2 separate regions of the Homo sapiens genome follow, and region 2 is linked to region 1. Evidence: fine-mapped expression QTL. A gene starts in region 1. The other region holds a variant in brackets. All regions are shown on one strand. Distances are from middle to middle.

Region 1 (5,376 bases):
AGTAACAGAGGATAGAAATTATCCAAGAGCATTGCACATAGTGGTCAGAAACTTTTTACTTTTTTTTTTTTTTTTTTTTTTGTGTGTGTGTGTATACTAGATCATAATGTAAAATGTATTTCTCACTGTGGGTTGTGGCCCTATCAGTTGGAAACCACTCATCTAGAATATTATCCATATGGAGAGGGCTGATGCAGGGCCAAATGATGGAGGGTATAAACTCAGGGCTGAGGGTGTGACTTGATTCTATGGGCAACGTGGAGCCACTGAGCTCTATTGGGTTGCACAGTCACCACCAGCACCTCACTGTCCTGCACTCTGATGTACACATGCCCAACTGTGCACATCATGACGTTTGGAATTCTTCCCATTAGCAAATCCTGCTGCTACAACAAACACTGGCTGTGGACATGATGCAAGAGATTGTCAGAACAAGAGTTTTAGAATATACTAATCTTAGCCCTAAAGGGTTAAGCCTTCATTTTACAGACAGAAAAAGAGGGACTCTAAGATGAAAAACTACTTGCCTAGAGTCACTTAATACACCTCTAACCGCTCATCTCGGGATCTTCTTCATCCCCAAGCCCCATGTAGGCCACCTGGTTGGGAATGGTGGAGAACATGACTCTAGCCAGAACCAGAGAAAGCTGAAGAAGACCTAGGGTAGTGATGAGAGAGGGTGTGTGTGTGTGTGTGTGTGTGTGTGTGTGTGTGTGTGTGTGAGAGAGAGAGAGAGAGACAGAGATAAGGCGCCTATTCTCACTCTCCCATTTCATCATCAATACCTTCACCAATATCACTATCCTCCTCCTCACCGTCATCATCATCGTCCTCATCACCATCATCACCACCATCATCATCATCATTATCATCATGACATGTCAACATAATCTTGTCTTCACCACCATCATCATCATCACTATCATCATCATCATATCCTCATCTTCACCATCACCATCACCACCACCACCACCATCACCACCACCACCACCATCACCACCGTCACCACCATCACCATCACCAACATCATCACCACCATCACCACCATCACCAGCATCATCACCACCATCACCACCATCACCACCACCACCATCACCACATCACCATCACCACCATCACCACCACCATCACCAACATCATCACCACCATCACCACCACCATCACCAACATCATCACCACCATCACCACCATCACCAACATCATCACCACCATCACCACCATCACCATCACCAACATCATCACCACCATCACCAGCATCATCACCACCATCACCACCATCACCATCACCAACATCATCACCACCATCACCACCACCACCATCACCAACATCATCACCACCATCACCAACATCACCACCACCATCACCACCACCACCACCATCACCAACATCATCACCATCACCACCATCATCACCACCACCATCACCACCATCACCACCACCACCATCGCCACCACCATCACCATCACCAACATCATCACCACCATCACCATCATCACCACCGTCACCACCATCACCACCACCATCATCATCATAATTATCATCATGACATGTCAACATAATCATGTCTTCACCATCATCATCATCATCACCATCACCATCATCAACACCACCACCACCATCATCATCACCATCACCACCATCACCATCATCATGACATCATATCACCAACATAATCACCACCATCATCGTCATCACCACCACCTCCGCTACCACCAGCATTCCTCTTTTCCCTAGCCCTTTCTTGCCAATCTGGAGCAAAATATGGAAATGGGTTAAGTGGAGAACTAATCTCCCTTTCTTCCACTCATCCCAATTCCCACAAGAGAGGCCACGTGTGTGGTTTCCAGATGGCAAAGTCTCACCCTGCCCTACAGCAAGAGGGGACCCCTGGGGCCAGATTCCTGAGCACCTAGTTTTGGCTGCAATAGTGACAGTCTGGGTGATGATGTCAGGGTGGCCAGGTCCCCTCCCAGGGTTGGCACTTCCCCATCTATCGGTGTGGCATCGGAGGATTCCAGTGAGATGTAACATGGGGAGTGGCTGGAAAAATACTCTGTAACTGTATGGCGAATGCCAAGGGGCAGGGGTCCTTGTATACACCGAAGTAATCCCGAGTCAGTTTACAGGATGGGAAGGGCCCCTATATAGATGACCAGGGTCCTTATGCAGGTAGAAGGGGTCCTTATGCAGCATGAAGGCTTGCTACACAGGCGTGTGGATTTTTCCATACATTCTGGAGTAGCCTCTACACATAGGAGTGTTTGTGCTTAGAAGCTGTGTCCTTATGCAGGCTAGGAATAAAAGTGGGACGGAGATTTTACACAAATACGGGCATCTTTTACAGGTGGGAGCACTTTCGTACACAGAGGACTTCTTATCCATGGAATTGGCCGTTCTTTGTAAAACGCTCTGTACTTACTAGCAACCTTTACACAGACATGAAGTTTCTCCATAAGGATAAAGGGATCATTATGTTTTAGGTGAAATAACAGTATGAGTGGCCTCGTATGGACAAGGAGGGCTGATTTCAATCGCGATGCAAGCCAGCTGTCCGGATGCCGCCGACGCCAGCAGCGCGGTACCTGCGCGGGCAGCAGGTGGGAGCCGCGACCGGGGTGGGGCGCGGAGCGCTGGGGGCCTCCCGACTCCCGCAGTCCCCGCCGCGACCACCAGGGGCAGCACCGTCCCCGCCCGGCCCGCGCCTCCCTCCCCCCAATCTCCGCCCCCCACCCCCTGCCTCCCCCCCGCTCCCGCTCCCCTGAGCCCAGCCAGACCCCGCGCCGCCCGCGCCCCGCTCGACTCCGGAGGCTCCCGCAGCCCCGGCGTCCGCCCCGCTGCCCCCTCCCCCGGGGGCCATGGGGGCGCCCCCGGGCTACCGGCCCTCAGCTTGGGTGCATCTCCTCCACCAGCTGCCCCGCGCCGACTTCCAGCTCCGCCCGGTGCCCAGCGTTTTCGCGCCCCAAGAGCAGGAATACCAGCAGGTGGGACCGGGCGCCAGGGCCTGGGGGCCAGGGCTGGGGGCCGGAGCTCCTGGGTCCCGAGGGAGAAGGGGGCTGGGTCACAGATTTCCTGAGCTCCGCCGGAGGCTGGGGGCCGGCCCGGACTTTGGGGTTTCGGAGGGAGGAGGAGCCTGGGGGCGCCCATGCCTGGAGGTTCTCCTGGGACGCGCGCTGGGGGTCCAGACCTCGAGCTCTCTAAATAAGGGAAGGCTGGGGACCTGCACCCCTGAGTTCATGGAGAGGAGGGGAGGGGGGCCCGGATTCCCGGGTGTCTGATACCTGCCTGGGAAGCCGGCCTCCAGGGTCATCGGGAGGGTAGGTCTACTCTTCCTGCCCTAAAAGATGACCCTGCCCCACAGGATCAGAGCAGGTGAATATGTCCCAGATAAGGTGGGACCCAGGAGACAGCGGACCTGATAACGGTGGCGGGGAAAACGCTGGCTGCTGCGGTGCTGGGATGGGATTGAGAGTCTGAAATGGGGAAGGGGGCTTCAGGGGCTGAGGACCAGGGCTGGAAAATGAAGGGGCTCTGGGAGAGGAAGCTTCTTGCCCGTCCCAAGAAAGAAGGGGTGGTCAGGGCGCTGCAGGGGTGAGGGCCGAGATGAGGCTGGGTTTGGGGAGCCTCGGGATGACAGACCCGGGTCCCGAGGGTGGGGCCGGTGTGGGAACCTCACAGAAGCCGGTGTCCCTGGGGAAGGGGCCCGGCTCGGGGCAGCTCCAATGGGCGAAAGAGCTGTCCCCTGACCCAGTTTAATTCAAGTCCTTGACTTCGAGATTAATGAGGAGAAAGGCTTGGCTGAGCTGGGGACGGGTGGGGGTGCTGGGAGTCCCGATGTGGCCCCAGGACGGGTCCTGGCCCTGCTGATGGGGCCTGAGCCCCTGGGCTCCGTCTTGGGTTGCTCCTGGGAGAAGGGGGCTGGGATTGGAGAGCTCAGGGGGCGTGGAGGGGGTCCCAGAAAAGCGCGGAGGGGATGAGTGCTGTGTTCTGAGCTATTTGGGTCACGGCTGGCACAGCCCTGAGCAGCTCTTCCCCGCCTGCTCCTCGCCGCCCCCTCTCCCCACACACGGGGACCGCCGTCCCCTCGCCCACAGCCTCGCGGTTACACAACGGCCACCTCCAACAACGCCGCTCCACCGGCTCCGGCCTCGGCCCAGACTCACGCCCGCTCTGGCCCGGAGACCTCCCGAAGCCGCACGCGGGGATCCGCGGCCCCAGTCACCGCCAGAGGCACGGGTTTGGGGGAGCCTCACTCCGCCCCCACGGTCGGGGGTCAGGGTCAGGGTGGCAGGGATGCGCGGGCAGAGCCCCACAGCCGAGGAGGGCAAGGGGGACCCCTGCAGGGACGCGACCACCGTGGGTACAGCTGCAGACACAGCCAGGGCCTCAGGGACACTGGCCCGGGGGAGGCACACAGCCACACGCACACACTCACTGGCATATGCACAGCACACACACACGTCCACTTACTCCCATTACACACTCACATGCACACACATATGCACAGGCACACCCAGACACGCCCACTTATTCCAACACACTCACATGCACACACATATGCACAGGCACACTCAGACACACCCACTTACTCCCATTACACACTCACATGCACACTCACATGCACACACTCAGACACGCCCACTTACTTTCATTACACACATGCACACACACATATGCACAGGTACACACACACGCCCACCTACTCTCATTACACACTCACATATGCACACACACATACCCATTTACTACTCCCGCTATGCACTCACACCCACATACAACACACGCATATAGACACATGCATACACTCACATGGATATACCCACTTACACATACACAATCACACATATGCACACGCACATTGCGCACAGTGACTCACAACACACACATACACATGTATAAGCATTTACTCCCATATACAAGCACACACTGCACTTATATATATATGCTTACACACTCATGCATGCACCGTCACATACACGTTTATACTCCCATACACACACACACGTACATTCCATTCACATCTACACACACATGCACACACATATTGACTATAGCATTCATGTGCACACACACACTCACATGCAGTCACGCATCCACACACACACTCATCCACACTGTTACACACACACAACCGGACCCACTCACAGGCCCAAGGAACTGTGCCCAGAACACACAAATGCCCACAGATGTTCTCATTTGCAGACAGCAGTGCACCCAGGAGACACACTCAGGTGCCCCCTCATCTCATGGAGACAGCCCAAAGATAAAAACATCCAGTCTCAACCAGAAACACAAACACTGCACACACTTGGGACACACACACACACACACACTGTGCCACTGTGTGTGTGTATGTGTGTGGACAAAGGCAGAAACAC
Region 2 (5,376 bases), 23 kb before region 1:
ATAGGCACACATCACCATACCCAGTTAATTTTTGTATTTTTTGTAGAGCTAGGGTTTCACCATGTTGCCCAGGCTGTTCTCAAACTCCCAAACTCAAGCAATCCACCCACCTTGGCTTCCCAAAGTGCTGGGATTACAGGCGTGAGCCACTGCACCTGGCCCAATTTTATTTCTTATTATTTTGCATGCCATTGTGAATGTATGAAGTGTTTCTCTCTTTATTTAGATCTTTAATTTCCCTCAGCAATCTTTTGTAGTTCTTAGTGTACACATCTTGCATTTCTTTATTAAATTGGTTTCTATTCATTTTATTATTTTTGAGGCTTTGTAAATAAAATTGCTCTCCTAATTTCATTATTGAATTATTTTTGTCAGTATATAGACATATGATTGATTTTAGTGAATATGTCTTCATCGTGCTAGGATTTTTGTTGTTGTTGCTGCTGTTGTTGTTATTGTTGAGACAGAGTTTCGCTCTTGTTGCCCAGGCTGGAGTGCAATGGCGCAATCTCGGCTCACTGCAACCTCCACCTCCCGAGTTCAAGCAATTCTCCTGCCTCAGCCTCCTGAGTAGCTGGGATTACAGGCATGCACCACCATGCCTGGCTAAGTTTTTGTATTTTTAGTAGAGACGGGGTTTCACCATGTTGGCCAGGCTGGTCTCAAACCCCTGACCTCAGGTGATCCACTCCCCTCAGTCTCCCAAAATGCTGGGATTACAGGCATGAGCCACCACATCCGGCTCTTGCTAGAAATTTATTGTACTTTTCAGCTTCATAATTTCCATTTAGTTTTATGCTTTAATAATATCCCAAGGTAACATTATGGTCACTTTCTGTAACTAATATTTCTTACTCTGTTGATTTATCAGGGGCTGGATTACTCTCCTTCAAGTTTCCTGTGCTAGCCTAATGGTTTGGATGTTGTTGTTCAATGCAATTCTCCTTTATTTTTGTTCCATTTATTTTTAGCAGCTTTGTTTAGCTATAATTGTTCTACTAAAAAACCTTCTCACTTAATGTACACAATCAGATGAATTTGGACACATGCAATAACCCCTTGGAAGACATTCACGTGCATGCGTTGTTGGTTTTTCCGCTTCTTACGGGAACTCCTTTCAGGCATTTCCATCTCCACGCTACACATGGGGAAATAGAGGCTCACAGAGGAGAAAGGACGTGGTTCAGGTCACACCTGTCCCTGGTCCTCCAGGCTGAGGAGCAGAGAGACCACCCACCTTAGTGCTGGAAGGGTTTAACACATAGCTTGGGCTCCCTCTTGTGGCCACAGTGGAGAAACTCCCTGCTTAGTTCATTTTTATTTTTTCCATCTGGCATTCATTTTTTTCATTCAGTAAGTATTTGTTGGTCCTGTCCTGTGTGCCAGACACTGTTTGAGGCTCTAGAGGTCCACCAATATAGAAAACAAACACCCTTTCCATGGAAGAGCTTATATTCTTGCAGAAGGAGAGGGGCAGTAACCCACAGGCATTATACAGTCACAGTCAGCTAGAAGGTGAGAGTGATTTGGATAAATGAGAAAGTGCAGCGGTGGTCCAGGGGGTCTGGAGGGTGCAAAGCTCAGCAGGGGGAATAGTGTGGCAGTTGCAGACAGAGGGGTAGGAAGAGGGAAGTGGCAGGAAGAGAATGCAGAGGGGTGAGGGTTGGGGCCACAGGTCCTGTGTAGAGCCCTGTTGGTCACCATGATCACCCTGAGTGAGCTGGGAAGTAACACAAATGACTCCAAATAGAAGCGCCTTCATGGAGCCTTCTTCTTCCCAGACTTCAACTAGAAACCTGAGCTGCCTGTCACAGCAGGGGACGTGTCATCCCATTAGACTTCAAACGTCCTCAGCAATTCCCTGCCCCCTTCTTTCTAGGAGTCAGGATTCCTCAGCCTTGCTCTAGAACTGCATCTGGTGACCCCTAGAAACCTGTCCTGGAAGCCTTACAAGGCTCTTCACACTCACAGTTTGTGATATGACCCCAGAGTTGTGCAGTGCACAACCTACACAGCTGGACACGATGGGCCTGGCACTCTTCCTCTGTGCTCCCACTGCACTCTGTGCTGACTATGTCATTCCACTGGGTGGTGCCATGTCAACTTCTCTCCTCTCCTCTCAATATCCTGTAAGGATAAGATAGGATCAAAGTTCTACCCACGTCCCTGGTACTCAGAAGAGGAGCTGAAACATTGGCGACCACTCATTAGCACTCTACTTAACAAAACAAATTGCCCAGGTAGTTATGATTAGATTTCTATAAAAGGCTGAATAATTACAGAAAGGCTCTAGAAACTAGTGTATAATTATGTACAGGCGCTGGCAGTGTGTAGAGTCATGGAAATCAGCTAAGGAATCGCGGTGCAGTCTCAGGAACCAGCTGGATAATTGCACCAGGAGCTCCCAAAACCAGCTGGATAATTATAGTGGAGTCCCTGGAACTCAGCGGGTAATTACCATGTACTCATGGAATCAGCAGTAATAATAGAAGGGTCCCAAATGCAGACACTAGGGAAAGTCTGGAGACACTTTTGATTGTCACAACCCAGAGGAGAGGGGGATGCTTCTGGGTGGTGGGGGGTGGAGGCGGGGGATGCACAGGACAGCTCCTCCCCCAAGGAATAACCTAGCCCCGAAAGTCAACAGTGTTACCCAGAAAAAAACAGGGTTCCTTTGCCTGGTGAGGAGCAAACAACTCTCCCGAGAATGCAGGTGATGTGGTTTGGCTCTGTGTCCCCACCCAAATCTCACCTGGTATTGTAATGATCCCCACGTGTCGATGGGGGGCAGTGACTCACGCCTGTAATCCAAGCACTTTGGGAGGTTGAGGCAGGCAGATCATGAGGTCAG[A/G]AGATCGAGACCATCCTGGATAACACAGTGAAACCCGTCTCTACTAAAAATACAAAAAATTAGCCGAGCGTGGTGGCGGGCAGCTGTAGTCCCAGCTACTCGGGAGGCTGAGGCAGGAGAATTACTTGAACCTGGGAGGTGGAGGTTGCAGTGAGCTGAGATCACGCCGTTGCACTCCAGCCTGGGTGACAGAGCGAGACTCCGTCTCAAAATAATAATAATAATAATCCCCACGTGTCATGGGAGGGACCTGTGGGAGGCGACTGAATCACGGGAGCAGGTTTTTCCCATTCTGTTCTCGTGATAGTGAATAAGTCTCACGAGATCTGATGGTTTTATAAATGGGAGCGCCCCTGCACGCTCTTTCTTGCCTGCTGCCATGTAAGACGTGACTTTGCTCCTCCTTCATCTTCCGCCATGATTGTTAGCCCTCCCCAGCCAAGTGGAACTATGAGCCCATTAAACTTCTTTCCTTTGTAAATGAACCAGTCTCGGGTATGTCTTTATTAGCAGCATGAGAACAAACTAATACAGAGGTTTTGATCAAGAAGAGTTTTATGACTTGACACAGCTAAGGAAGGCACTGGGTGTATTCTTCAAAGCAGTGTCTCCCTGAGGAAAAGGGACAGGAGGGCTCTATGGGGTGAGGGAGCAGGGAGAGGGCGCGTCGTTGTATGTGGAGGAGGGTCCCAGTCACGCAGATGCAGCGAGTCGTCATACCAGCACACGGGTCGCATGTTACGGTAACGAGACTACAGCTCCTCCCGGGATGGAGACTTGAGCGCAGCAGTGCAGAAAGTTCACTCGGGTTCATCTCTAAGTTGCCAGGGCCCGTCAGAGGCTGGTTCCAACCAACGAGTGGCCGCATTCCACACAGGGTTTGGAGAAAAACAGGCTGCAGGGCAGAAGGCTGTGAAACAGGCTGATTGCTCAAGTTGATTAAATTCCTATAATCCCTGGAGACCCTCCCTGTCTCCATACAGTAGTGCTTGGGTTGAGAAATTTTCTTTAAAAGACTATTTTTAGCCGGGCGCAGTGGCTCACGCCTGTAATCCCAGCACTTTGGGAGGCCGAGGCGGATGGATCACGAGGTCAGGAGATCGAGACCATCCTGGCTAACACGGGGAGACCCCGTCTCTACTAAAAACACACAGAAAAATTAGCCGGGCGTGGTGGCGGGCGCCTGCAGTCCCAGCTACTGGGGAGGCTGAGGCAGGAGAATGGTGTGAACCCGGGAGGTGGAGCTTGCAGTGAGCTGAGATCGCGCCACTGCACCCCAGCCTGGGCGACAGAGCGAGACTCCGTCTCAAAAAAAATAAAATAAAATAAGAATAAGAAGAAGAAAGAAGAAAGAAGAAGAAGAGGAAGAGGAAGAGGAAGAAGAGGAAGAGGAGGAAGAGGAAGAAAAATGTTTTAAAAAGACTATTTTTAGAGCAGGTTCAGGTTCATAGTAAAATGAGGGGAAGGTAGAGATTTTCCATGTACTCCCTACGCCGACACCTACATAGCTTCCCCCATTACCAGCGTTCCCTACCAGAGCGGTATTTTTATTACAACTGATGAGCCTGCATTGACACATTGTAATCACCCAAAGTCATATTAGGGCTCGCTCAGTCTTCCTGTTGCACATCCTATGAGTTCAGGCAAATGTCTAATGGCAGGCACCCACCGTCACAGTGTTAGACAGAGGAGAGCCATTGCCCTAAAATTCCTCTGTGCACCACCTATTCATCCTTCCTTCGCCCAACCCCTGGCAGCTCTGATCTTTTCCTGTCTCCATACTTTGCCTTTTCCAGAATGTCATATTGTTGGAATCAGACAATGCGTAGCCTTTTCAGATGGGATTCTACCACTTGGTAATATGCATTTAAGGTTCCTCTGTGTCTTTTCATGGCTTGAGAGCTCATTTCTATCTATCTATCTATTTATTTATTTATTTATTTATTTACTTATTTACTTATTTATTTATTTTTGAGATAGAGTCTCGCTCTGCTGCCCAGGCTGGAGTGCGGTGGCTGTGATCTCGGCTCACTGCAAGCTCCGTCTCCCAGGTTCAAGCGATTCTCCTGCCTCAGCCTCCCGAGCAGCTGGGATTATAGGCACCTGCCCCCACGCCCGGCTAATTTTTGTATTTTTAGTAGATGGGGTTTCACCATGTTGGTCAGGCTGGTCTCGAACTCCTGACTTTAGATGATCCACCCGCCTCGATCTCCCAAAGTGCTGGGATTATAGGCGTGAGCCACCATGCCTGGCATCATTTCTTTTTCTTTTCTTTTCTTTTCTTTTTTTTTTTTTTTTTGTTGTTGTTGTTGTTGTTGTTGAGGCAAAGTTTCACTCTTGTCGCCCAGGCTGGAGTGCAGTGGCACGATCTCAGCTCCCTGCAACTTCCGCCTCCCGGTTTCAAGTGATTTTCCTGCCTCAGCCTCCCAAGTAGCTGGGATTACAGGCGCCTGCCACCACGCCTGGTTAATTTTTGTATTTTTAGTAGAGATGGGTTTCCCCATGTTGGCCAGGCTGGTCTTGAA

Direction of the effects. Positions count from the first base shown, and alleles are read on the strand shown. Sizes are in standard deviations (SD) of each study's normalised expression.
As copies of G replace A in region 2, the expression in subcutaneous fat of the gene that starts at base 2,768 in region 1 goes down (large effect, 0.78 SD a copy in FUSION).

Evidence for each region. PIP is the estimated chance that this variant, and not a neighbour inherited with it, causes the effect.
Region 2: its variant is fine-mapped to the expression of TTYH1 in subcutaneous fat (FUSION, PIP 0.95).

What each region holds. Positions count from the first base shown.
Region 1 is chr19:54,412,697-54,418,072 of GRCh38, forward strand. TTYH1 (tweety family member 1) reads left to right here and starts at 2,768. Exons shown (of 14, transcript NM_020659.4): 1 at 2,768-2,982. The coding sequence starts at 2,857. LOC124904770 (LIM domain-containing protein A-like) reads left to right here and starts at 4,406. Exons shown (of 1, transcript XM_047439797.1): 1 at 4,406-5,376. The coding sequence starts at 4,440.
Region 2 is chr19:54,389,904-54,395,279 of GRCh38, forward strand. No RefSeq gene overlaps it. Among named protein-coding and RNA genes, the nearest start is that of TTYH1, 23 kb to the right of the region's middle. RefSeq lists an enhancer at 1,546-2,093. The variant A/G (reference allele first, on the strand shown) is at 2,852.